2 separate regions of the Homo sapiens genome follow, and region 1 is linked to region 2. The links come from fine-mapping of genetic effects on gene expression. A gene starts in region 2. The other region holds a variant in brackets. All regions are shown on one strand. Distances are from middle to middle. Region 1 holds the start of HOXD3 (homeobox D3). Region 2 holds the start of HOXD8 (homeobox D8).

Evidence for each region. PIP is the estimated chance that this variant, and not a neighbour inherited with it, causes the effect.
Region 1: its variant is fine-mapped to the expression of HOXD8 in testis (GTEx, PIP 0.95).

The regions. Positions count from the first base shown.
Region 1 is chr2:176,152,632-176,164,782 of GRCh38, forward strand. HOXD3 (homeobox D3) reads left to right here and starts at 4,676. Exons shown (of 4, transcript NM_006898.5): 1 at 4,676-4,821; 2 at 11,442-11,537. It overlaps HOXD4 (homeobox D4), which reads left to right. Exons shown (of 2, transcript NM_014621.3): 2 at 1-595. The coding sequence ends at 311. RefSeq lists an enhancer at 2,636-3,139. The variant C/A (reference allele first, on the strand shown) is at 5,651.
Region 2 is chr2:176,125,537-176,137,598 of GRCh38, forward strand. It overlaps HOXD8 (homeobox D8), which reads left to right and starts at 4,169. Exons shown (of 2, transcript NM_019558.4): 1 at 4,169-5,407; 2 at 5,781-7,159. The coding sequence starts at 4,831. The coding sequence ends at 6,076. It overlaps LOC100129455 (a long non-coding RNA gene), which reads right to left and starts at 4,992. Exons shown (of 1, transcript NR_187615.1): 1 at 2,289-4,992. HOXD-AS2 (HOXD cluster antisense RNA 2) reads right to left here and starts at 11,562. Exons shown (of 3, transcript NR_038435.1): 1 at 11,085-11,562; 2 at 9,783-9,886; 3 at 9,305-9,414. LOC401021 (a long non-coding RNA gene) reads left to right here and starts at 11,076. Exons shown (of 2, transcript NR_148241.1): 1 at 11,076-11,463.

The DNA of each region.
Region 1 (12,151 bases), 27 kb after region 2:
AACCCAAGCGGTCCCGAACGGCCTACACCCGGCAGCAAGTCCTAGAACTGGAAAAAGAATTTCATTTTAACAGGTATCTGACAAGGCGCCGTCGGATTGAAATCGCTCACACCCTGTGTCTGTCGGAGCGCCAGATCAAGATCTGGTTCCAGAACCGGAGGATGAAGTGGAAAAAAGATCATAAGCTGCCCAACACTAAAGGCAGGTCATCGTCCTCATCTTCCTCCTCATCTTGCTCCTCCTCAGTCGCCCCCAGCCAGCATTTACAGCCGATGGCCAAAGACCACCACACGGACCTGACGACCTTATAGAAGTGGGGACCCTGGGCCCATCTCTCCCTGCGCACCAGGCTGAGCCGAAGCTGCGGGGGCAGGCCGGGCCTGCTGTCACCTCGCTGGGCTCTAAGGTACTGTGGGGTGGACCTGGGACAAGCAGGCCGCCCTCGGACTAGGTTAGCATCCTGCCCGAGGGCAGCCCCCTCCCTAGAGCGGGATGGGGATGGGAGGGGGGGCGGGATTCTCTCTCTAAGTATATTATATGGCAGGAGCTACTGAGAACATAAAATCTTGGCGAGTCATTAAACTTATGAAAATCACCGCTCTTGGATTTTGAATTTGCAAATGAAGGTTGGATGCTTTATCCCACTGTGAATTTGGACATTCTCCCCCACTCCACCCCTCCAGGGTGCTTTGTGGCTTAATAATGTGGGGGAGTTGAGGCAGAAGGTTGGCCACCCCTGTGCTAGGTGCTTTCAGTGGAAGCCAGAGAGCTGGGTCAGGATTTCTGGACTTTCTGGGTTGTCTATGGAATTTCATGTGATTAAAAAATATATATTTTGCTCCCAGTGGCCCCACCTCCAAAGAAATGGGTCTAAGAAGGAAGTAAAAATGGGTTATTTTATGTTTAGATATTTGCTTAAATATTTATTTGTTGGGAAATGTGGTACAGAAATAACTGACACCTTCATGCCAAAAATCTTAAAAAGGTGAAAGGGGCTGAACTTCAGGGAGCAGAATCAGAGATATGTGCACTTACTTCTGAACTCCACCCCTCCCCACTCTCTGGAAATGTATATAGGGGGGCCTTAACCCTTCCAGAAGGAAGCAAAGGATTCACTCAAAGTTGCATTCTTGAAAATATATTTCCACATGTGTTTTTTTCAGCACTGTGCTTACAACCAGTTCTGGGTGATTAAAGGAAAGGGAAAAAAACCAACAAATGGTCCAACATTTTCCTTCTGGGGAAAGAAAACAAAACCTCTATGCACTGGGTCATTAGATAATGACTGAATTTTCTGTTCCAACTGGATTCCAAATGCCCTAAATACCCTCATATAGCAGTGTTTTACAGGAATTAGTGTATGGCCTGTGTAGGGGAGGGGCTGTGCAGTGGGGAGAAAGTGGGAAGGTGAGGAACTCTTGCTTTAAGAAGGAAAAAAAAAAAACCCTAATTGAATCTAGAAGTCCACAAAAGTTAGCCTTAGAGTTTTTTTCCCCCTGAAGTTTTAATTTTTTTAAAAACCAAATCTAAGGAAGTTTTCCTCAGCTCATTAATTAGAAGCAGAATTTGTAAAAGTATAAAAGTTTTCAAGCACTCGTCTTTGCCTTGAGAATAGTGGTTTTTTAAAGAATCACTCTCAACAGGGGAGATGTCCTCTAGTCGTTTTTCTTCTGCCTCTCCTGGGAAGGGTTCAAAGTTCATTTTTCTAAAATGCTGACCCTCAAGCATAAGGAGGAAGAAGTCAAAGTTAATGGCCAGAGTTCATATACTCAGATGAAACCAGTCTTCCCAAGGCCTCAGGCTCCAAAAAAGGTTGTAGCTATCAAAAAGTGACCAAAGTGGGAAAGGGAGAAAGGATAAGCTTAAAATTTAATTTTAAGATCCAGAAGGGGGGTATTTTTTTCAGTACTTCAAAAACACTTTAGAAGGTTTCTGTTGTAATTTAAAAAATATATTTAAGTGGGAGGGAAAAAAGAGTTTCTCTGTAGGCTTGTTCTTTGGCTGTGTCTCCTGAGAGCTGAGGGCAGGTATTCACTGCAGTCCCTAGGCTGAAATTCCGCTTCTCTGAAGTGTCTTCCAAGCCTTGGTCTTTTGTATTAGACCCTGGGGACTGCTCTTTGTTTCTCCTTGGGGTGAGCCTGGCTCTCAGACTTGCACATGGCAATACTTGAATGTCACCACGTCGGGATATTAAAGATGGATATTCGTGCATTATTCACATCATTGTTTCTATGACAAAAAGCACAGAGTTCATACATAGTCAAGACGTCTTTTTTCTGACGCCCTCACGTTGAGAAGCTGAAAAGGTATTTTACCGAAGTTCGGGTAAATTACAGAATCAGGTTCATCCAGAGGACAAATTTTCTATTTGATTAGCTGTATTTCAGCCGGGAGGACTGACCTCTAAACCCCTAACCTTTTGGACTCTAACTACCCTTCTCTTCTTTTTTCCTCTCTAACATGGAGAGCAGTCTTTGGATGTACCATTTGAAAGGAGCCGCTATCCTTAGGCAAGTTGGAAAGTTGCTAAGCTGCTTTCCTAAAACCCAAATCTGTCTATACATTGAACCTTCTCTTTGAGAAGGGGAAAAAGGTATATATTTTCACAACATCCAATTACATATATATAATAGAGATTTGTTGTATAGATTTTCCCCCACCTCAGAAGTTCAGGTTACTCACCCCCAGTTTCATACCAAATGCCACACAGGCTTAACTGACTGCATCCCTGCCCCAGAGGAAAGCCAAGAAACATGTTTTCATGAGGAAAACCCAAGCTCCTTCTCAAACATAGCCCCACTACTTTGGAAAGTAACTTAATCAGAGAAACAACTTCTTTGTTTATAAGTCTCAGCTCTCCTTCTCAGCTTGGAGGGATTCTTTTGAAATGTTAATGGAGCCTGGATGGCCCAGAGTGCAGCCCCCAACCCTGAGGTCCCAGTCGGACCCCAGCATCCATTTGGGCCCACAGGAGTGGGCCAGGGAAGGGGTAGGGCCCCGTAACCACTTAGGGCAGGGAAGGAAATGGGTTTCCATCTGAGAACGTGCTTTGGAGAAAGCTAGGTGTGGAAAAGCTCCAATGCCCATTTGCTATTATTTGTTTCCAGTTTGTTCCTTTAAATATGAGCCAGAAGTGTTTGTGTTGGTGTTTTAAAAACAAAAACAAAAACCGTGTTGGGGTCCTGACTGGGGGAGGGGGAGAGTGAAGTGTTTGCTGAGGACATTGCTCCTCTGACTCCCATCTCACTTTGTCCATCGCAGCCTTTTGTTGGGAGATGACACTGTCAGTCAGCCCATGATGTCTGTTCACACGAGATGCTTTTTTAATAGAATTGACCAATGTTTTGCTGCCACTGATTAAAGTATTATTTATACTAATTGTTGCTTGTAGTTTTGATGTAATTCATTGATCTATATTTAAAATAATAAAAGGTGTAGCAAAATCTCCCTCCTGTTTGGTGCCTTAACAGAAGCATTCATCCTTTGTTAAGTCTTCTAAAAGCTAACATTTAACATAAACAAGTTATTATTTTCTGCAATAAATTAGGCACCATTTTTTGGGGGGTGCCTAAAGTGTGAAGGTTAAACCATGTAAGGCTTAGCAATTCTATTATTACCACCTCCTTAATGTACACACACTCCCAGTTGGCCACCATATTTTGTGAGCATTGGGAAGCCTGGGGTTGAATTCAGGGTACAGAGTGTTGGGTGTTAATTTTTTGAAGAAAAAGTAATTGCCCAGGTTAATAGGGGGATCCAGGTTGGCATTCTGCTGGGCCCGGGCCAGGCCCCAGACCTTTTTGGTCTGGAAGCCCTCAGAGGAAGTCTTTGGGAAGTGGTGGATGAGACACCTTACTGGTCCCCCACCCCTAAGGCAGGGAGAGCGTGCTGGGTTCTGGGCCGAGCTGAGGCTCCTGGGTGGCTGCTCTGACCTGACCCCCGGGCCTCCACTCTTGGGCTTCTACTTTTCCAGTACTGTTAAGCTCCTGTGGGGACTCCAGCACCTGCCCCTCCTTCTTCCGCGCCCCCTCCACCCCTCAGGCAACAATAAACACTCCCCACTATAAAAAGTGCCCTGCACTACATTTACCGCAAGGGCTTCTTTACATCTTGGCCTCGCCTTGAAGAAGGGGCCAAGACAGGAGTCCCAAAATAGATGGGGGTGCTTGTTCCAGACAGGAAATGAGCAGAATGCATAAAATCAGACATCTGTCCTTAATATATGGAAGGGCTTGCCCCAGACGCGTGGACATGTGTATTTATAAGTGCGCAGGCAGAAGTTTAAATATTCAGACACATTTTATGATTGTCCTCTGCCCGTCTTCTGCTTAATGGCTCCTCCCGTGCCCACCAATACATCAATACCGTTGTGTGTATTGAATCGCGGGCAGGGATGAGGAGGAAGCGAGTCCATAGCAGAGCCCGCTGAGTATAGAGTACAGTAAATCGGGACCCTCGGCGGACGGCGCTTCCCGCCCGCCTGCCCGCCATGTTGGGGAGCCCTCCCTGCCCCCCGCGCCGGGCTGGGCGGCCGGGGCTCGCTGGCAGCCGGGGGAGGGCCTTTCATAACCCGGAGAATTTTCTAAGTGCGAGGAAGATGATAAGAATAGATTTCTACAAGTCCCGACCACGTGATTGGCGAAATAATTAATTCAGCACGTCCCTTAAGAAACACGGAGTCGTCATTAATCTGCCACGCAAAGGGCTCTCTCCGACTTGGAAAGTGCAGGGATCCCAAGAATATCACCCGTCCAGGGGGGCCGCGCGGTGCCCCCGGCCCTCCACCCCCGGCCCCCGGCGGGCGCGGGAGCGCGGCCGCAGGTAAATATTTTGGCAACTTTTATTTCATCAGATTTAAATCCTTAATGAACTTAGCTGTCACGGCCGCTGACAAATAGTTCCCTTTGCTTCCTGATTTGGAACTGCGCGCCGGCGAGAAGTTGTTAGTGGCTTGGATGGTGACCTTTGGTTCAGCAAAGCTTTGCACTTATGAAAAATTACTGAGAGCGGCCGAGTGTGTGTGTGTGTGCGTGCGTCCGCGCGCGCGCTTGTGTGTGTGAGAGAGGGAGAGACAGAGACAGAGACAGAGATAGGGAGAGGGTGTGTGTGCGAGGCGCTAGGGTGCCAGGGGGCGAGGGGTGAGGGGCGAGGTGCACGCGGGCTGCTCCAAGACAACAGGAGTTGTAAAAAACCGGCCCGGCTGGCGGACGCGCCTGGCGCACGCGGGCCGAGGTTGCCTGGTCGCCTGTGTCTACCAGGAACAATGGTCGCTGTCACGGCATCTGCCGCCTATTCTTAAACCGGTGAGAAAAGGCCCTGGCCCTCTTTTCAAGCGAGGGTCGTAAATTTTTCTTTGCGTCATAATAGAAGGCTATAAAATCGAGTTGAAATTTTACCCCAGGCAGGTTTTAACCAACAGATAATGATTTCCGAGTTGCCTCTCCCCCCGCTCCTCTCTCCCCACCCAAGTTCTGCTGCCTCTGTCACCCCAGCGAGTTTCTTCTTCTTTCCCGTTTATTTTTGTGTTTGTATTTTTTATTTCTATTTTGGAAGAGCTAAAATAAACGCGAGAAGAAGTCCCTGCAGCCCGAGTGGGAGACCCCGGGGCGACGGGAAGCCTGGGGAAAGGAGGATGGGGGAGAGGCCAGTG[C/A]GGGCTGCAGAAGGCTGTTTCTCTGCTCGCTCCCGTTTCTGCCTTTTTTCACCGGCACTCCAAGAAAATTGGGTGTCCTAAGAGCCACTCCGCTCCGTTCCACCCCATCCCCAGCTTGCCAGGGTCGTGGGCTGGGGCAGTAGCGAGCATTCTTTTCTTCCAGCTTGCAGCTCCGACCCGGGCGCCTCTTCATTCGCCTCCTTCCCTCTTGTTGCTGTGAGATACCTCCATTGGCTTTCAGAATGATTTCAGCGAGCAGGGGCTGGCTGCGCGTGGTGGTTGTTTTGGGATTATGTGTGCGTGTGTGTTTGTGTGTGTGTGTGTTTTCATTTATTTTTTGGTGTGTGTATATTTCCCCGTCAGGACAGAAACAAAGTTTCCCCCATTATGAATTATACATTCAAACAATAACACATTAATTCAATTATTCAAAGATGACAAATGTTTATGTGCTTTGCGAGTGACTCGGGCGCAGATTCCAGGCGCTTTCTCTGAGCTGCTTGCATTTTTCTCAATGAGAATCGTCTCCCCTCCCACCCCCCCCACTCCAACCCACTCCAACCCACCTAGATATCCCCTTGTAGGCCCAGAGAGGAACCCACAAAAAGCTTCCCCAGCCCTGCTGGCAGCCCGGCAGCCAACAGCCTCCCAAGGCCCCGGCTTGGCGGGCACTGGCCCGGGCTATTTTATCAGTGTGACAATTGCCCGGGTTGGTGTGATAAATCATCGTAAGTAATTCCTGAAAGGGTGCGAGACTGTTGGGGGCCGGGCGAGGACTGTAAATCTTTCCGGTTTATTGCTCTATGAACATATGCTCCGATTGAAGAAGGCTTAGATCCTTTCCTGGAGACAAATTCCCGCAAAGCAGCCCCCCTCTTTGGCTGGGGATTAACACTTGCTGCTGGCCGTCAGGTCGGCCTCTGGCAAGAGGCTAGGGGGCGGGGTCCTCCGGGTGGGGGTGGGCTGGGGTCACCCACGATCCGGCTTCGAGAGACGCCCCGAGTGGGCCTCTGGCCAGGCCCGGCCAGGTGAACAAAAGGATGGGCTCGTAGACGGTTCTGGGGGCTCGGGCCTCCAGGACATTCCTGCGCCTCTGGAGTGGGGATGCGGTGGACCTTACCCACTCCTCTGGGGCTCTTCTATGGCTGCTGGGCACTTTCACCGGTCTCAGACCCTGCAATCAGCAACAGAGCATTTCACTGTGCCTGATGCCGCTGAGCAGAGCTGGCAACGAAACCAAAACTTCGGGGACAGGGTGGAGAGTTCCCCGTGGTGCGGGATTCCCGAGTGTGGCCCCGGCTGGGGGAGGGTCTTGGGCGCTCATTACAGGCCAGGAGGTCCGCTGCTGGCGCTGGCACGCTTAATTCTTTTTTCCCACATTGCAGAATCATTCCCACCAGCCACTCGGAGAGTGGTGGGAATCTGTCTTGGTTTAATATTTCTAAAATATAAGTTTCATTGTCCCCCAGGTTAGCCCAGCCAGGACTCATTGCGCAGTCCTCCTCGCCTTCCTGGAGGCGCCGCAGGAAGCGGGAAGTCGCGGCTTGGCGGTTGCTGGGCCTGTGGGATCTGCGGGTCCTGCCCAGACCTGGAGTCGCACAGATCACGGCGGGCAGTGGCTCAGCGCCTAGGCGGCTCCAGGCCTCGAAGGACCAGGTTGGGGTGCTCAGGGATCAGAGAGGGGAGGTCGCTCTGGGTCCGGGTCGCCTGCTACGCGCCTTTTCTGTCTCAGAAGTGGCGGTGACTCGGCTGCTGAGTCCGCGGAACGAGCCACGGAATGGTGGTGGTGGCGGGGTTTTCTGAGGTGACTGGCCAGAGCTGAGAGTCGCGGCTTCCACCTTTGGGCCGGAGCGGGTCCTCGCCCTGGGAGGAGCTGGGCGTCGGCCTCCGCGGCGGGGAGGCCGCCTTGCCGGGGTGCATGAGGCTGCGGAGTACTCCGCGGGCCCGGGAAGCTAGGGGTACCCTCAGCCTCTGCTGCTCCACGGCAGTCTCCAGAGACGCTTCTAAGAGAGGCAGTTTCTAAAATTTCCAGCTCCCGGACCAGTCTGGCGGAAGGCCCAGCCAGGGTCAGAGGTCGTTGTGGGGAGAGACTCTCAACGCCCCCAACCCACTGAGGGCGGCCAGGCCAAGACTGAGTCGGCCCGGAGCTGCGAAAATGTGTTCTTTCCTTCCGCCCCACACCCATCCGCGTCTGCCCCAGGAATGGGGCCCAGGTCCCAAGCCTCCTGCGCCCTTCCTTCCAGCCCCCAGGCTTGGCTGCGCTCCGGGACTGGGTGGCGTGAAAGTTTCAGCCTCAATCAGTACAAGCTTCCCTCGGGGTCACGTGAACAAATATGCTTGCATTTGAAGGCAGCGTCTGTATTTCCCGACTATGAGGGGGTTTCCGGGGCTCTCTCCAAATCCAGAAACGACCACGTTCCGCAAGCAAAACAAATCCCAAGCTCTGGGGGGCCTGGGAGGGCTGGGCAGAAACCCAGGAGTGGGTGGGGGCGCGGGTGGCTGCCGCTCTGGGCCCGAGAGCGGACGGGCGGGCGGGTGGACCGATGGGCGCGCAGCGCAGGCGAAGCCAGCTCGGGGACTACGAACTCGTTCCTCCTGCGTTTATTGGTAGTTGAACCTCAGCCTGGTTCCGTTCTACCGGGAATTCCGTGTGCTCGAGTATATGGCCGTGTCTGCGAGCGCGCAAGACCAGGGTTGGGACAGTGTTGTCTGCAGACAAAGGGGGAAGGCTAGCTCTGCCCCCCACTGGCGCCCACTCTGAGGCCGAGGACACCAGGTTTATGATAAATTGGGATCCAGGTAAGCAATTGCATGACAAAATGGAAATCTTTGGGCACGGGGCTGCTTGCCGCCCTGAGCGGGATATTAAATATGATTTATTTTGTGTAATCTGTGATCTTGATTATTGCCAATTGGTGAGGCAGCCCGCGTAGACCTAGATACACTGCTACATATACATGGAGGACGGTGATTAATCGTAACAAGGCGCGCTTTGTGGGGACGTTCCCCGCCTACCAAAGGGTTAGGAGGACACTACCTTGCCAGGCTTGGAGGGTGGCCGGCAGCATTGGGGGTGGTAGTAGCAGTTTAAGGAGGGGATCTGGTGAGGGGATTGAGTGCTGGAGGAAATATTTGGGGGCTAAATGTGCACTTAGGAGAATGGGCTGAAAAAGAAATTAAAACTTTTTTACACTTTACTGCCAAAGTAAGATGGAGCGTCATATTAATTCTGTGTCTTGAGCTGCCGGGCTGGGTGCAGGCGGGTTGATTTATATGTATTTAAAATAAACTCGGTGGTCAGCCAGCTCCCTGCATTGTTCCGGTAGCGAGCTCCACACACAGCCTTTACCTCTTGCTGTTGGCTTAATTTTTTCTTGGGAGATTAAAACGCTACTGAGCTTTTCCTCCCAAAATTTGAGAGAACCTCCAAACTACCCAGAAGAGTTTGGGAGGTTCCTCCACATTTCCCTTTACCAATCCAGGCTTTTGATTGCCGTAGTGGCAGAGAAAAGGTTTAGTGTTTCTAGGTCCTTCTCCCCAAAGAACCCTGAATGAAAGCTAAATCATATATTGGTTCACGAATCCCATCTCTCCTTTTGTTTACTTGCTCCCTGTGGCTACTGGCTGGGAGAGGAGAAGACAACCCATCCCGGGTCTTTCCGTGCCAGGGATGGAGTGAGCAGCTCCAGGAGCTCCAGTGAGTGGTTCCATGCTCGTGGTAATGCCACTGGGCCAGACCCAACCGGACCTTTATGGGGAAAGAACCTCAAAAGCAAGGAGCATTCCCTTAGCTTAGGTTGGGACAGGCCCTAGCAGGAGAGGAACCGACTTCCAGGGGCTTCGCCATCATAAGAGAGCAGTAAAGTTGTTTTGTCAATCTCCTGCGCTTGGCTTCATCAGAACTGAAAGTCGCTGGACATTTTTCTTTGCTAGCTGCCTTGAAGCTGCGCGCCTGCCAGCTTAGTCAGCTGAATCCAATTACCGCGAGTAGCATTTCATTTGGCCCCATGGAGCATTCACTTATAACTTCCCCCGAAAATTTCAATAATCCCTACCAAGGCTCCACGCTGGCCCTATCCTAAAGAGTTTTCCTAGGGTGCTGCTGAGGGATGAGGTGTAGGGTTGGGGCTGCCTGGACTCAGCTCTTCCTTGACAGCTCACGGACGCAGCTCCTTCCTGCTCTTCCCGTTTTTGGCTCCAGAAAGAGCACCAGTGCTGGTGGTCCAAAGCCAGCCCGGTTAAGGCTGAGAATCTGGGCAAACAAGGAGCCAAAGTTGGACCCGCGTGGGATGGTGGGTGGGCAGGGTAGGGAGCGTGGGAGAAGGTGCTGAAGGCTTTTCTGGTGGTCCAACTTTGGTTAACTTGGGGTCCTCTTTCCTTTCTTCTTCCCAAGCCTCTTACGCCAAGAGCTCAAAGCGCACCGCGCACCCCGGAACCCCCAGGCGCAAACTTACCCTGTTCCTCCGCGGCTGGAAAAAGAAAAATCTAGCTAGAGGCATAAGGGGGTGGCGGCCCCGGGTGACCTCCCAACTTAGCTCTTCTTTTGAGGGGATGCTCCTACTTCTAAAGAACTCTTTTTTAAAAATAAATAAATAAAAAATAATCAAGCGGCGAAAGTTGACGTCCGCCCACGTGAATGTATTATATAAAGCAGCTACAGGACCAGCTGGCTTGAGAGCCCTGGTACCTCGGGCCTCCACCGCACCACCCTCAGGTCCCGGCCCAGCCAAGAGCGCTTGGGGGAGGGGGGCGGGCAAGTGGCTTTTCCCCCTGGGTCCAGGCCGGCTGGGAAGCTGAAGCCGCAGCGCGAAGTTAGGAGCCCTACCGGGCTGGGATCTCTTCGAGGCGCTTCTGTTGGGTGTTCATTAAGGGGTGAGTTATTGCGGTGCGAGCCAAAGGTCACTTCAAAGGCTTATGGCTGCGCGCTTTAGTCTTTAGAAGCGCCGGGAACGCTTTGTGTGAGGCTTTCCCGGGTGTAGTTTAGTGCTCGCAAACTACTGAGTCGACAAATTGCACAGGGCAGATGCAAGAGGGGGACTCTGTCTCTCTCCTTTCACCTGACGGGGGGTGGTCACCCGCTGAGCGGTGACAGTGGTGGGGGAGCTTGGTCTGTGGCTTTGGGTGGGGGTGGAAAGGATGTTTGTTTCTTAGGCGATTTGCAGTCTGATCCTGACCCAGAAGTGGGCAGCCCAGGGCCAAGAGTGTGGTGGATACTTACCGGAATGAATAAACTCAGGGAAAGCATCTGATATATTTAATGTATAAATCAGGAACTAGCGCCCAGGTCCTCTTCACTGAGGCTCTGTAGAGCAGCCCCTGACCAAGATCCACCCAAGCCTATTTACCTTCCTTTCCTGGTGCCCTTTTCTGCAGCCTCCCCTGCCAAACCCCCACCTTAATTCTGCACGGTCTCTCTCTTCTGCCCCTAGGAGAGTGTTTGGCTTCCGGGATTGGGACCTGGAGGAGCATTTAGAATTTGGTAGGGGCAGGAGGAGAGCAGATTGGCTTCCCTGCACCTCTGACCCACCTGGCTAGAGGGTCTGGCGCTTCCCTCACGTCCGGGCTCTCCCCTCCCCCATCCAGCCATGGATTTTGGCGTTAAAGGGGCCCTCGCTCCCCAGGAGCCAACTGAGTCTGTGTTTTGCCGGGGAGAAGGCGTCTGGATGGTCACGGGTACCATATACAATAGTCACATTGACTATGACGTCCTTCAAGTGGGAAAAGCCCTTCAACATGTAAGTGTTTGTAAGCAAGAACCGGCTGCTACTGAGAGTTTTCCATTTTGTTCCAGATTCGCCTCCACAGATATCAAAAGAAACCTGAAGAGCCTACAAAAAAAAAAGAGATAAAGACAAAATTCAAGAAAACACACACATACATAATTGTGGTGAGTGGGCATCATTTAAATAATAATTTCCAGTACATTTCCCTCTGCAACTCAAGGTGGCCATCTCAAAATTCATACATCAAGACATAGAACAAAGGGCAGCTTTGAAGTGGGTCACTTCAGTATGAAGTACCACCCGTTACATGAAAACCGATCATTGGCCTTCAAATTTATGGCGCTTTAATGGGGCAAGCCCAGTGCCTTAAATACAGGGTGCATTACAGTATTGAGTTATCTGGGCTAAATAAGAGTGATTTAGAAGGCGCGTCCAGGTCTTCTTATAGAGCAAAAGAGGCTCAAGCTTAGAGATCGGGAGAACTTGGGCGGAACGTAAAGAAGTCTCCTTTCGAGCAAACCCAAAAACCAGTGGTTTCGAATCCCGAAGTAGCAAAGCCAACAGGAAAGGGAGAATCGTTGCTCGGTTCCAGTGAATTCGTGGGGATGCTCAGCAAAAGTCTTGGCCGCCAGAAAGAGATCCGTGGGCTTCTGACCCTGGTTTAGGCAAAACAGGGGGAGGCGCCGAGACCAGCTCGAGCACTAGCGGATTTTGAGAGAAACTGACCGCAACCTCCATCGCCTTCCCCCTCTCTTTCAACTTGGATGGGCTGACTCTA
Region 2 (12,062 bases):
AGCCCCCAGCTTGGCCCTCTGAGGGCTGCATTCAGGGGCTAAAATGAAGGTCATTGTAAGTGAGGGTTTGGGTGAGCACAGCATTTGCAGGCCAAAGAGGCAGCACTGCCAAGTGGCCTGAGCTGGGTGGAAGGTGGGGGCGGTGGCAGAGATCTTGGGGGATCCCAATGAAAGAGGGGACGCGAAGAAAAAGCATAGGGGGGCTGGGAGGGAAAGCCAAGGAAGGCCCAGATCCGGCAGAAGGTGCTGCGCACCCCTGCCACTGTGGCCAGCTGGGTACCTAGGGCTCTTTGAAAACAGGAAGAGCCGAGGTGTCATAAAGCCATCTAGCGGGCCAGACGTCTGGAGGTAATGAGTTTACGACAGGCCCAGTGCTTTGCTTTGAAACCATCTCATTTTGATGTTTGTGTTTGTGGGAGAAAAGGAAAAATGCAGACAAAACTGGGTCTTAAAATCTAGACAATAAAATATAAACAAGACTGCGTTGGACCAAGAAGGCAGGGGCATGGGAGCCCCCAGGTGAGGTGTGAGCACCTAGGAAGTAAACATGAAAGAGGTAGGAAGGAAGAGGTGAATGAATTTCTGATTTTTGAAATGAACCAGGTAATGGAAGTAGCCTAAGGAGATGGCATTTTACAATATTTTGACTATGACCACGGTTTAGCTGGTTCTTTAGAAACAAACAAACAAAAAAATTGGCCTGTTATCTGGGGATAGGGTGGTTAGTGATCTTAGGTCATTTACCCAGGTGAGAGTCTCCCAGAAGTGTGGTTCGCGGGAAAAGATGAAGTTAGATGCCTATTCACAAGAATCTCTGGCCCTCCACTCCAAACTTTGAAGCAAAATGTTGTTGAAATTTATGTCTATTCACTTATAAAAAAATACAATTGTTACACCTAAACTGGAGGAAAGCAGTTTTGAAGATGAGTAAAAAGATTAACCTAACAGGAAACACTTAAGCCAATTGAATAGTCATTGCTTTTAAAAAAAATTCTAGTGGAATGCTTAGTTCAATGACTTTTGATATATATTTTTAAAATCCCATTTATTGTCCATAGAAATTCCAACAAACAGAAGCGCAAAGGGACTTTCCAGACAGCCACTCAGAGATCCAGCAAAAAGCTTTTGATTTGGCTTCGATTCCCCCCAAAATCGGCCACCTAAGTGGGCCCCAAAGCATTAAAGTTACAGTGTTAAAGTAGCAAATATTCATGATTTAATCCTAAAAGTAACAGCTGTAAGAGAAAAACAAAAACATAACAATACTTGATTTCTGTAATTTCTTGGTTGCCAAAGTGTCTGGTTCCTCTGGAAAATAAAAAGCCTCTTGGCAGTTGATATTTAGAAAGTTGTAGGTTTTGTTAAATCTAGCCTGTCCTATAATTGTTTTAAAAGGCACAGCTGGGCGGTTACAGCATGGGGACTTTTGGTGTCTGGCAAAAGAAGGGCTGGAAGCTTTTGGAAAAGACACTACTGGAAGCTGTTGGGAGCACTGATTAGAATATCCTAGGCATACAGGAGCTCCTGCTTGCTGCTCTTGACTTGTTGACAGTCACAGGAATGAAGCATTATTAGTGTCAGCAGTCCAAGCCCCAAATTGAAGAACGAGATTAGAATTGGTTTGAGATGAATAAAAATTAAATTCAGTGGACTGGAGGTGGCATTTGGCCACTAGAGAGCGCTGTTGCTCCACTTTCTGATCTCGTAAAGCTGGAATTGCGGCGGAGAAAGGTTTTGATTAAAAATATTAACAATCTTATTTTTAATCCGAAATTAGGATAATTTTAACCAAAAATAAACAAGGTGTACTATTAATTTCTGTGTTTGCTGGGCATAAAATTTTGGCTCGATCATGGCTTCAGAAACTTTGGACTGTGGCACAGCTGAAACTATAAAACATGATAAATTAATGTATTATATCAAAACAGAAAGCTGTAAAAAGCATAGATCTTTTCTTACTAAGTTAATCGCGCTCTTTTTCTACTCATATTATAAACGGAATGCTTAAATAAATGTTAAAAACTGTTTTGTCCCAAGAGGAAATGTTGTAACGTTTTCTAAATTTGGCCTGAATGTCTATAAATGAATTTTCTAGTGTTCATTTTTCTTTTATTCCCCCGAGGAATCACACAGTTCTACAAGATGCCTGGTATTGTTGAGATCCAGGCTCTTTCATTTTCCCCCCCCCCATTCCATTCCAAAATCCACTCATTTATCCAGGGTTCAAACACACACACACACACACACACACACACACACACACGCCAAACTGAAAAAAAGGGGCACAATTACAAAGGTAGCTCCAAGGCTTTATTGACAATAATAATCTTTTAATTGGGCATTTGCAAGATTGAAGGACAAATCCTTAATTGTCAGAATCAATTCGTTCGCCTTCGGATTTAAAGAAAGTCATTATACTTGGCAATAACCAGCAGAAAAAAAACCCCACAAAAACAAACAGCAACAACAACAAAAAAACCCTTGCTCTCCACCACCCCAAGTCTGCACTCCTTACTAATTTAAAAATTAAATAAAGCATGCCTCTGTCATCTCCAGATTCATTAACGATTCCTTTACCTTTCAGTCATTCCCAGTAGAAATAATTGAGTCGGACATTATCACCTTGCTATGTCTGTCCATCTCGATCTCATTTTCTCCATTTGTAAAAATGATATTTCAGTCCACCCGGACACAAGTCAGGATCGCGCTCGCAGGCTGGGCCAACCCACAAGGAGCTAGGGGTAGCTGAAATCGCTCGCCAGCCTGCAGCATCTCTGAGGCCGTCTGGGGTTTTCGGAAATTTGCATTTGGTGTGGAAAGCCGGCGTGGTGCGTTTAGCTTGAGCAGGGGCGCCTTGGAGGTCTATTTCCAAGGCTGTGGGCCTGGCGCCCTCACGACATTGTACCTATCCCGAAGGAAACGGGGCTCAGTCACCCAAAGAGCCCACGAGAAAGGCCGAGCAGGAGAGGGGAAAACACACACACACAACAGAGAACCATTGCATTTATTGGACATTGAAACGGGAGCAGAGAGGGAAAGGAAGTGTGTGGGGAGGCGGTTGGTAGGGTAAAGCCAGACAGCTTTGGAGAGAGCTGCTAAAATCGGGAATATTTTGTCGATTCACACTCGACTGGGCCACATGACTCGGGCAACTTTTCTTCATCTCTGCTCACAAACTAGGCTGAGCCTTCTCTTTCTCTGCTTTGGGAAAAATTCGTAACTTTGAGGCCTGCGCGCTCTCTCGGCAGTAATTTCACAGGCTTGGCGGAGGAAGTAGGATCGTTAGCATAAGATGGGCCGCCTGCAGCTGCCTGGAACCGGCGCGATCTGAACGCCGGCTGGGAGGCTCCTGGGGGGAACTTGCGGTCGTCTGCCCTCCGCACTCCTCCGGGAACCGCAGCCGGCCCTGGTTCGCTGCGCGCCGGGGCTGAGACCCGGGAGCCGCGTCCTGCCCGAGGAAATGTCACCCTCCCCAGCGCGAGCCCTTTTTCCCGCCTCAGAACGTTTCTGTCCGCTCTTCTATTTACTCTCTCAGCAAGCCTAATGCCCCCTCCTGCATTCTTCAGCCTCCCCCTGCGCCCAGGGCTGACGTCTATCAAGGGTGAAATGATGGAAACTATATTCATGGGCATGATTTCCATTAAATATCAATTAACCTGAGAGCCTCGGCCAGGCTTGCGGTGCGTCAAGGGTAAATGTACATCTCATTTCCACAGGGCCCGCTCGGCTGGAAAAGAAAGGCTTTGATTTGCTTTGATAACGCCAGGATCTGGGGCCACACTCGCGGCTTTTAATTAAACCACTTCGATATGCCCCAACTCAAATGCACGGTCCGGTCCGTCAACACCTCTTGTCCACGTTCCCTGGGCTGCACCCGCGTGTCCAGAGCTGCAAAAGCCACGGGCAACCTCTGCTTTTGCAGCCAGGGGCTCGGGGAGGCAGTCATTTGCTCCGCAGCCTCCTGGGAGTGGCCTCCTTGGCTCCCCCAAGTCTAAGGCTCCGCCGCGGCCCCTCCCTGCCGGCTGCGATCCGCATTCCCGCGGCCCCGGGGCACACGGAGCCCTTGGCAGTGCGTCTTTATGGGCCCCCTTTAAGGCCGGCGGAGGCATCTCGGGCCGGGCGCGGCGCTCCGTCCGTCGGCCGTAGCGACTGAACTGCGCGCGGATCCCTCCGCGGGGCTCCTCGTCCCCGTCACGCTGACTTTCCGTGCAGTGCTGTGGTGCGAAAATGCCTCGCCGGTGCGCACCGGGTCGGCAGCCTCGGCGGCGGGGGCGAGATTGGCGGGAGGGGGGCGCGGGGGGGGCGCGGTAAGAGGTGGCGGCGGGCAGAGGGTGTTTTTTTTCTTTTCCCTCCAGAGCCGGGGTTTGTAAACCGAGGCCAGAGTGTCCCCGTGGGCCGAGCGCACTTTTTTCTTGTCCGGGTGCGCTCAGTCACTGGTGCCTGAGAGGAAACAGTGGAGGCAGCGGGGCAGGTCGCCTGGGGCGTCGGCGATTATATTGCGGCCGAGCCGGGGCGCGCCGGGAAAGGCCGGGAGGGCGGCGGCGCGCGGGGGCTGGGCGAGGCCCCGCGACCCGCGAGGGAGGCGGCGCGAAGCCGAGGCGGCGGGCGCAAGAGCCGGGCATGAGCGCCCAGTAGCTGAGCGCCCGCGGCTGCCTGGCCTCAGAAGCGACGCGCGAGCGCGGGCGGGCGGCAGCAGCGACGTAGCCCGGCGGTCCCGGCGGCGAGAGCAGCCGCCCCACAGGCCCCCGCGGCAGTGCGGCCGAGTCGAGGCTCGCTCTCTGGCTGCTTAGCGCCGCCCGCCCGCCCGGGGCCGCCGCCGCTGACGCCCCAATGAGTTCGTACTTCGTGAACCCGCTGTACTCCAAGTACAAGGCGGCGGCTGCGGCGGCGGCGGCGGCGGGCGAGGCCATCAATCCCACTTACTACGACTGTCACTTCGCGCCCGAGGTCGGCGGCCGTCACGCCGCCGCCGCAGCAGCCCTGCAGCTCTATGGCAACAGCGCCGCCGGCTTCCCGCACGCGCCCCCGCAGGCGCACGCGCACCCGCACCCGTCCCCGCCGCCCTCCGGGACTGGGTGCGGCGGTAGGGAAGGCCGGGGCCAGGAGTACTTCCACCCCGGCGGGGGCAGCCCGGCCGCTGCCTACCAGGCCGCCCCCCCTCCTCCTCCGCATCCTCCGCCTCCGCCGCCACCTCCCCCCTGCGGCGGGATTGCCTGTCACGGGGAGCCCGCGAAGTTTTACGGATACGATAACTTACAGAGACAGCCGATTTTTACGACCCAGCAAGAGGCCGAGCTGGTACAATATCCTGACTGTAAATCGTCCAGTGGTAATATTGGCGAGGACCCAGACCACTTAAATCAGAGCTCGTCTCCTTCTCAAATGTTTCCGTGGATGAGACCACAAGGTTGGGATGCATTTTTTTTTTAAGAAGGGAGAGGGGGAGAAATCTGCTTTCATCTCACGTTCTGGCTTTAAAACTCCCGTTCCCTCTCCCCCTCCTTTTCCTTCTTGTGTAGCCACAGTGGCTCTTATTCATAAAGTAATACAGACTTTTTTTAAAAAAGTAGGAACCATGTAAAGATGATGGGGACAGAATAATTGTGAAGACCTCTCTGCTCCTCTTGCCTGCACACCCTATATATATATATCGGAGCTAAAGAGCTCTGTGTATATTTCACCCCGTAGACCCCCGTTCCACAAACCTCCAGCAACATGCAGAGGTACCATAACATTTTTAAAACTTTTATTCCCCCCCCCTTTTTTTTTGTTTTAATCAGCAGCTCCTGGTAGACGAAGAGGAAGACAAACCTACAGTCGCTTCCAAACTCTAGAGTTGGAAAAGGAATTTCTTTTTAACCCCTATCTGACCAGGAAAAGAAGAATCGAGGTTTCCCACGCCCTAGCCCTCACCGAGAGACAGGTAAAAATCTGGTTCCAGAACAGGAGAATGAAATGGAAAAAGGAAAACAACAAGGACAAATTTCCCGTTTCCCGGCAGGAGGTGAAGGACGGGGAAACGAAAAAGGAAGCCCAAGAGCTGGAGGAAGACAGAGCCGAAGGCCTGACAAATTAACTTCTACCTTTAAAATTTACCACAGACTATTAAAACTAATAATCACCATATGCTGTGGACACCACCTATTTTCTTTGTTGGAAAGGACCTTACCTGTGTTTCAAGCTACCTTCATGTCACTGCTCTTGAGGTTTTCTGTGCTTTGAGAGGGATTTGGGTGTTTAAAAAAGTTTCTAGTATCACATAGAAGCTGTCCTTGAGCTGTCCTATGGAAGGGTAATTTGATACTGACCTTGTAGCTATATTTTTATAATGGTTTTTAATGTCTGAGCTAGTGATTTGCCTCAACAACGTAAACTTCCTAATGATTAGCACTTAATAATTGCATATAAAATGCTTTATTAATTAAACAAGTGCACTTGAACATTTTAATATTTGTGGTGAGTAAATTAAAAGGAGTTTATTAATTAAAAAAAATTATGTCTGCAGAATACTTTATATTATTTGATTACAATGTATTATTTATGGATTTTTTATTCTTTCCTTTATAATGAATAGTTCGGGTGCGTTTTGTTTACTCCTAAAAGGTTTCTTTGCGTATTTTCTAAATGTAATATCTCGGGGAAAATATTAGAAAAGCACGTATTAGCTGAAGAATGTAACTTGTAGTCCAGCTCTGCAGCTTCCTTAAACTTAAGAAAAAGATTGGGCCAGTGACAAGAATTTAAAGACAATGTCCAAGTTGACAATTATTTTTCTATAGTCCATACAAATTAAATAATCTGGCAACTCTGGCAAATCGCCTTGTAAAATGCGTCTCATTTTTTAACTTGCTTTCGTTTTGAACCGCCCTTGTAATCGCCTGAAATCGCTAGTTCTTTATGCGGTGGCTGCCGCTGTGTTCCGTTATTTTCAGTAGGTGTCATATTTATTTGTATTGCCTTTGTTCTGTTCGCCGCTGGTTTTAAACCAGCTTGCTGTGTGCATCTCAGACGTCGGTTGGTACGTCCTCCGCTGTTCTTCAGGAAAGCGATAGCCTCACCTATTTGAAACAAGCCCTGAGAGGAAACGCAGAAAAACCTGAGTGTAAACAACTCCGGAATGTCGCTAGCTCCTTAGTAAATAAATGAATCTCTTTCTGGAGCTAGTGTCTTTGAGCGCCGCAAATACCCCTTTTCCATGAATCACTAACAATCGCCTGGGCTCGCACGAAGGAAAGGACTCGCTCAAGGCTTCTGTTTAATAAGAAAGGGGTGGGGTTACACACATTCCGCGCTGTTTAAAAAAAAAAAAAAAAAGGCCGCAGGGGCCCCTTCTTTTTCAGAGAGGACTGGCTAGTCTATCTTGCTCTAAATAATCTTGCTAAGATGCTCTGAGAGCTTTGATCCTCTTAAAGGACTCAAGTTGTAGGCCCAGTGGGGGACAACGCAAAGTCCATGTTACACCACAGCTTATTGCACTGAGCCGGCGTTGATGCTGGGGTTTGGCATCTGTTATTAACAAGATATCCATTTTCCATTGGAGGCTGCTCCTGCAGCTGCCATTTTACAGGGGAAAGTGGGGGGAAGAGGAGCGGGAGAAAAGAGGAGAAATTCAAGTAAAGTAACATTCCCGAAAAAGGGAAAGCACCTTTGTTAGGTAGTCATCGAAGAGCTCTCTGCTTTCTCTAACCATGTTTATTTTCAAAGGGGTAAATTTTTATTTCCAGAGTTGCTTTTATTACATAGATAAGAAAAATGGAATCCTATAGTTTTGCGCCAGGGTCACCTCATCGGGTTTTATCAGGCTGTTTGCCTGTGGCTTCATGGACACAGAAATGTTGCCACTGGCCAGGTCAGAAGGAAAGCACCACCTGGCTTTCCATGCTGGGAAGAAGTGATGGCTGTGACATTCTCTGACCTGAGCCAGGAAAGATAATTTTAAATCACAGGTGGCCCAGAACTTAAACATTTGCACTCCAAGAGACAGCTGCAAATGCCTATGCTGGATTTGAGAATGTTTTGCTCTGTGCACTGCTTAAGACTCTGCTGTCAGCTGGTACAGAGTAAGGATGCCAAGGGCCAAGAGGCTGGGGAACAGCCTCCAGTGTAAACCATCCAAAGACCAGTGCTGGCTGAAATCCAGCTGCCCTGGATTTAAGGGACTCAGGACTTCTTTATATATTAGCAAAACTGGCTGTCTCCTGCTCAAGGATGCTCACCAGATACTTTTAGAACCCTGAAATAATGTTGGCAAGACTGTCAGGTGGGAGCCCTGTGTATGGGTGGGTACGGAAATCAAGGAAGGAAGAGGAGATAAAATTGTCATTTCTTCAGCATTCTGTGCTGGTCTCAAAGTGTAACTTCTGGCCCCACTGGCCGCCTAAACCATGGTAAATTCATACCTCATGTACAGACAGACTGTTGCAATAGCTGGTATATATTAGATTATGAATTTGTATGTATACATAGCTTACACACACGCCCAGAGTGTTGATTATTCATGTAGGTAAATGTTTCCTTTTGTAGCTGGGAAAGAGCATAGATTTGTGTTCAAATAAAGACCTGGGGGAATTACACATCACACACACTCGCCACCTTCTTTCTTACACTGACTAGACATCCCCACCCCCCATCATGGTGTTTCATGCAGACAGACTGGCAGTGACTTGCGCACAAGATGCCCTTCTAATGGGCTCAAATGTGTCAACATCCAAGCATTGAGGCAACAAGCGAACACTTTTTTGCTGCAGAAATTTGCATAAACCTTCAGAGAATGCTTTGCCATCCCAGGCAGCACTTTTCAGCCCTGAACTGCACCAGTCTGCCTAGTGAGGTCTGTAAACCGTTTAGAGAAAAATGGTTCTCTCCAATGTTAACACTGAATGAAAGAACCAAGCCTTCTGAGTGATTTAGGCTCTCCATTTGCAATGACCAGAAACACACAAAAGAGAATGTGGGTCTCAGTGGTTTTCAGAGAAGTCAGTTCAAGGATGCCATTTTGTGAGGTTCCACAAAGCCCAATATATCGCTTACCTCTGCACAAGGGGAGAAAAATGCAAATATGGCTGCTTTTCAGTGCAAAGTGTCTTTGCGGCCCTCATTCCCCAAGTTGAAAGGGAGGGTCATAAAGCTCTGCTTTTATTTGGGTAAGATGGGGAGAGGATAATGAGGCAAATTGACTATTGAGATTATTTCTCAGAAAATTTTGGAATTAAACAAGTTATTTGCTCAATTCCACATGTATATACCAGTATACTAGTGTGAAGTCTTCTGGGCTTCTGAGGGCCCAAAAACTTGCCCCATCTGCTTGTGTAATTTAAAATATTGTTTTATTCTGTAACACAGAAGGAAGTGCTATTTCACATCCAAGCTTCTTGTGTCCTCTGCTTCCCCCGTGTTTGCTGAATCCTTGGGCATCTAGGGATGGACATGGGAGGAGAGAGAACATTTTAATGGGCCCTGGCTGCTGCTGCGGTTCCCTCCAGCAAAGTTAGGGCCCATTGGCTTTTTTCTAGAAAGAATATGACTTTTGCTGACAGATGGCAGCAAAAGTCCTTTAATCAAAAACATCCAAGGTCATCAGAACTTTTTCAAGGGATAACAAATGGCCTGCTCCAGAGGGTGCTGTGCTGCTTCCTGCTTCAGTCCACATCCACTTAGGCACTTACTGGGTGTGCAGATGTTAATAGCAGAGAACTTATACACAGGTATCTGATGCAAACATTTGTAACATAGTACTGGAAGTGTAAAGACACTGTCTTTAAAAGGATGGGGGGTGGTGTTACCTCTTTCAGGAAGGTTCTGAAGGCTGCATGGCTATGCCCATGAGGGGAATGCTGGAGGCCAGCCAAGGACATTTACTTTCAGGGGGAGTTCACCAGAGCAGTTCCTGTGAAAAATATAAAGGGAATGTGACACCGGCCTTTGAGGAAAAGGAATTATTCTTTTTTCTAGGCTGATCTGAGGAAGTCACTCTTTTCCTGAACAAATGTCTTTTCAGTATTGCGTTGAACAAATTTTTCAATTGGGAAATATTTGGGGGCAAGGGGAGAGGGGAGAACTAGAATTAAACTCCATAAAAATGAGAATTGCTCTTAGAGGAGGACGTAGAGCAAGGAGTTTCAGAAGGGATCCAGAAACCATAACCCTGTCTGTCCAGAAAGATGTTTCTGTGGAGAAAGACCAGGTGGTAGAGTTTCAAACGGGTATTTCGGAGAGGTTGACAAGTACCTAAAACCATTTGAAGCCTTTAAGCTGGTTGGTGATTATCCTACTGCAGAACCTCCCGGGAATGGGAGGGACCCCAATTTATGTTGGAGTGGTGTGTTGGGGGCACATTTTCTTGGCCTGCAGATCCCTCGTTTTCTTCCCAAGGTAACTGGGGCTGGCTTGCAAGATGAGAGGGAGGAGGGGAAACCGAAAGTGGTTGGCTGCCTCTGGGGACAGGCCTTTTCCTGAGGGGAGAGGAGGAGAAGCCAAGTGACTAGCACAGGGTGAGAGATGGGAGGAGGTAGCTGTGGGGATCGCTTCCCCAGAGCGTGAGCAGTACATTGAGTTCATTTCCCTCCTTCACGATGGCCAACTGCGCAGAGGTTTTGAGCCAAACCAAAGAAAAGAACACACACACACACACACACACACACACACACACACACGCACACACACAAATAAATCCTAGAAAAAGAAACAGAGGAGGCGGGGAGGGAGGGAAGAACCACGAAGGGAAGAAAAAGGGAAAGGTGAAGAGGGACAGAGAAAGAGAAGGGAGGAAGGAGAGAGAGAATGGAGAGAGAGAGGAGGAGGAGAAGGAAGAGAGGAGGCGGGGGAGAGAGAAAGCAGAAGAGGAAAAAACATGGCGCTTGCGAGCTGTATGTGCAAAATCCGCAAGGAATTGCAGTAAATTCCTTTTTGTTTGAAGAAAATTTACAACTTGGTAATAGACCTTTTTATGACCTATTTGCGGTCGTCATTGGCTGCGGCTGGTCATGTGCAGGCGCCGCTCGCCTTCACGGCCTTTTTCCTGATTTCCCCGGCGAATTTCCCCCCGCATTCTGCTTTCCCAGAGCCTCACCCCCTCTTTTTCTAACCTTTGTCTCTGCAGAGGTGGGCTCCAGTCACCGGCTGCGGGATTGCGGAGTCCGCCGCGGCCTCGGCTCCCGCCCGGCGCCCGGCCTGGCCCCACCGCCGCTCACTCGGTCCGCATCGCCGCCACCTCCGGAGCTGGTGGGGAGCCCGGCGAGGGAGGGCCTGGAAGGGGCCCTGGGCGCCGAGTCCCCCGCCGGCGCCGACACCGCCTGCCAGGAGCAGCCGGCCTGCTCGAGGTGACTGCAGCCGCGCGGTTCTGGCGCGGCTTCTTCACCAACATGAGCGGGTCTCTGCGTCCGAGAGTGAGCGCAGCCGGGCAGCGCCTAGTGGATTACAGCAGACGCCCGGACCGACCGCCGCCTGTAGCTCGGCAGCCTTCGGGTAAGAATCGCCCCCTCCCCGCTCCCCAGCATGCCACCAAGAAGCCTGGGGCGCCGACCCCCTTGGGCAGCTCAGTCCGGCTGCTCCCCTACATTTCCCGGGGAAGTGGGGGGTCGCTGTCTAAGCCCCTTCCCCCAATCACTTCGTTCCTAGGGCGTCCCCTGGGGCCTGGGGTGGAGTCCGGCTGGGTTCAGAAGTCTAAGGGGGCAGTATTATTTCAAAAATTCTGAGATACGGGTAGCCACAGACAGGATCCCACTGCCTAGATGGAGAGCCCCTCAATCCTACCCTAGGAAAGTGTATAGACGGGTTACTACTGAACATCTCCACTTTGCTGGGGGTCACTAAAGGCATTTTATATAGAGCTGTGGTTTTTGTGGTTTACCTGTGGCCGTGGCCAGAGGTTCCTGGGAGGCTAACAGGTGTTTTTTGAGGGTTGGGGCTTGGGTGGGGGTGGGGTGAATTCTCTGTTTCTAGGATGTGCTTGGTGTTTGAATCTAGGCTTTAGTGACTGATGCTGGTTAATTTCTAGGGTTGATGGTTTATTGGGCCTTGTGTTGTATGAGATGGAATTTTAAATATTTTTAAATGTTTCTCTA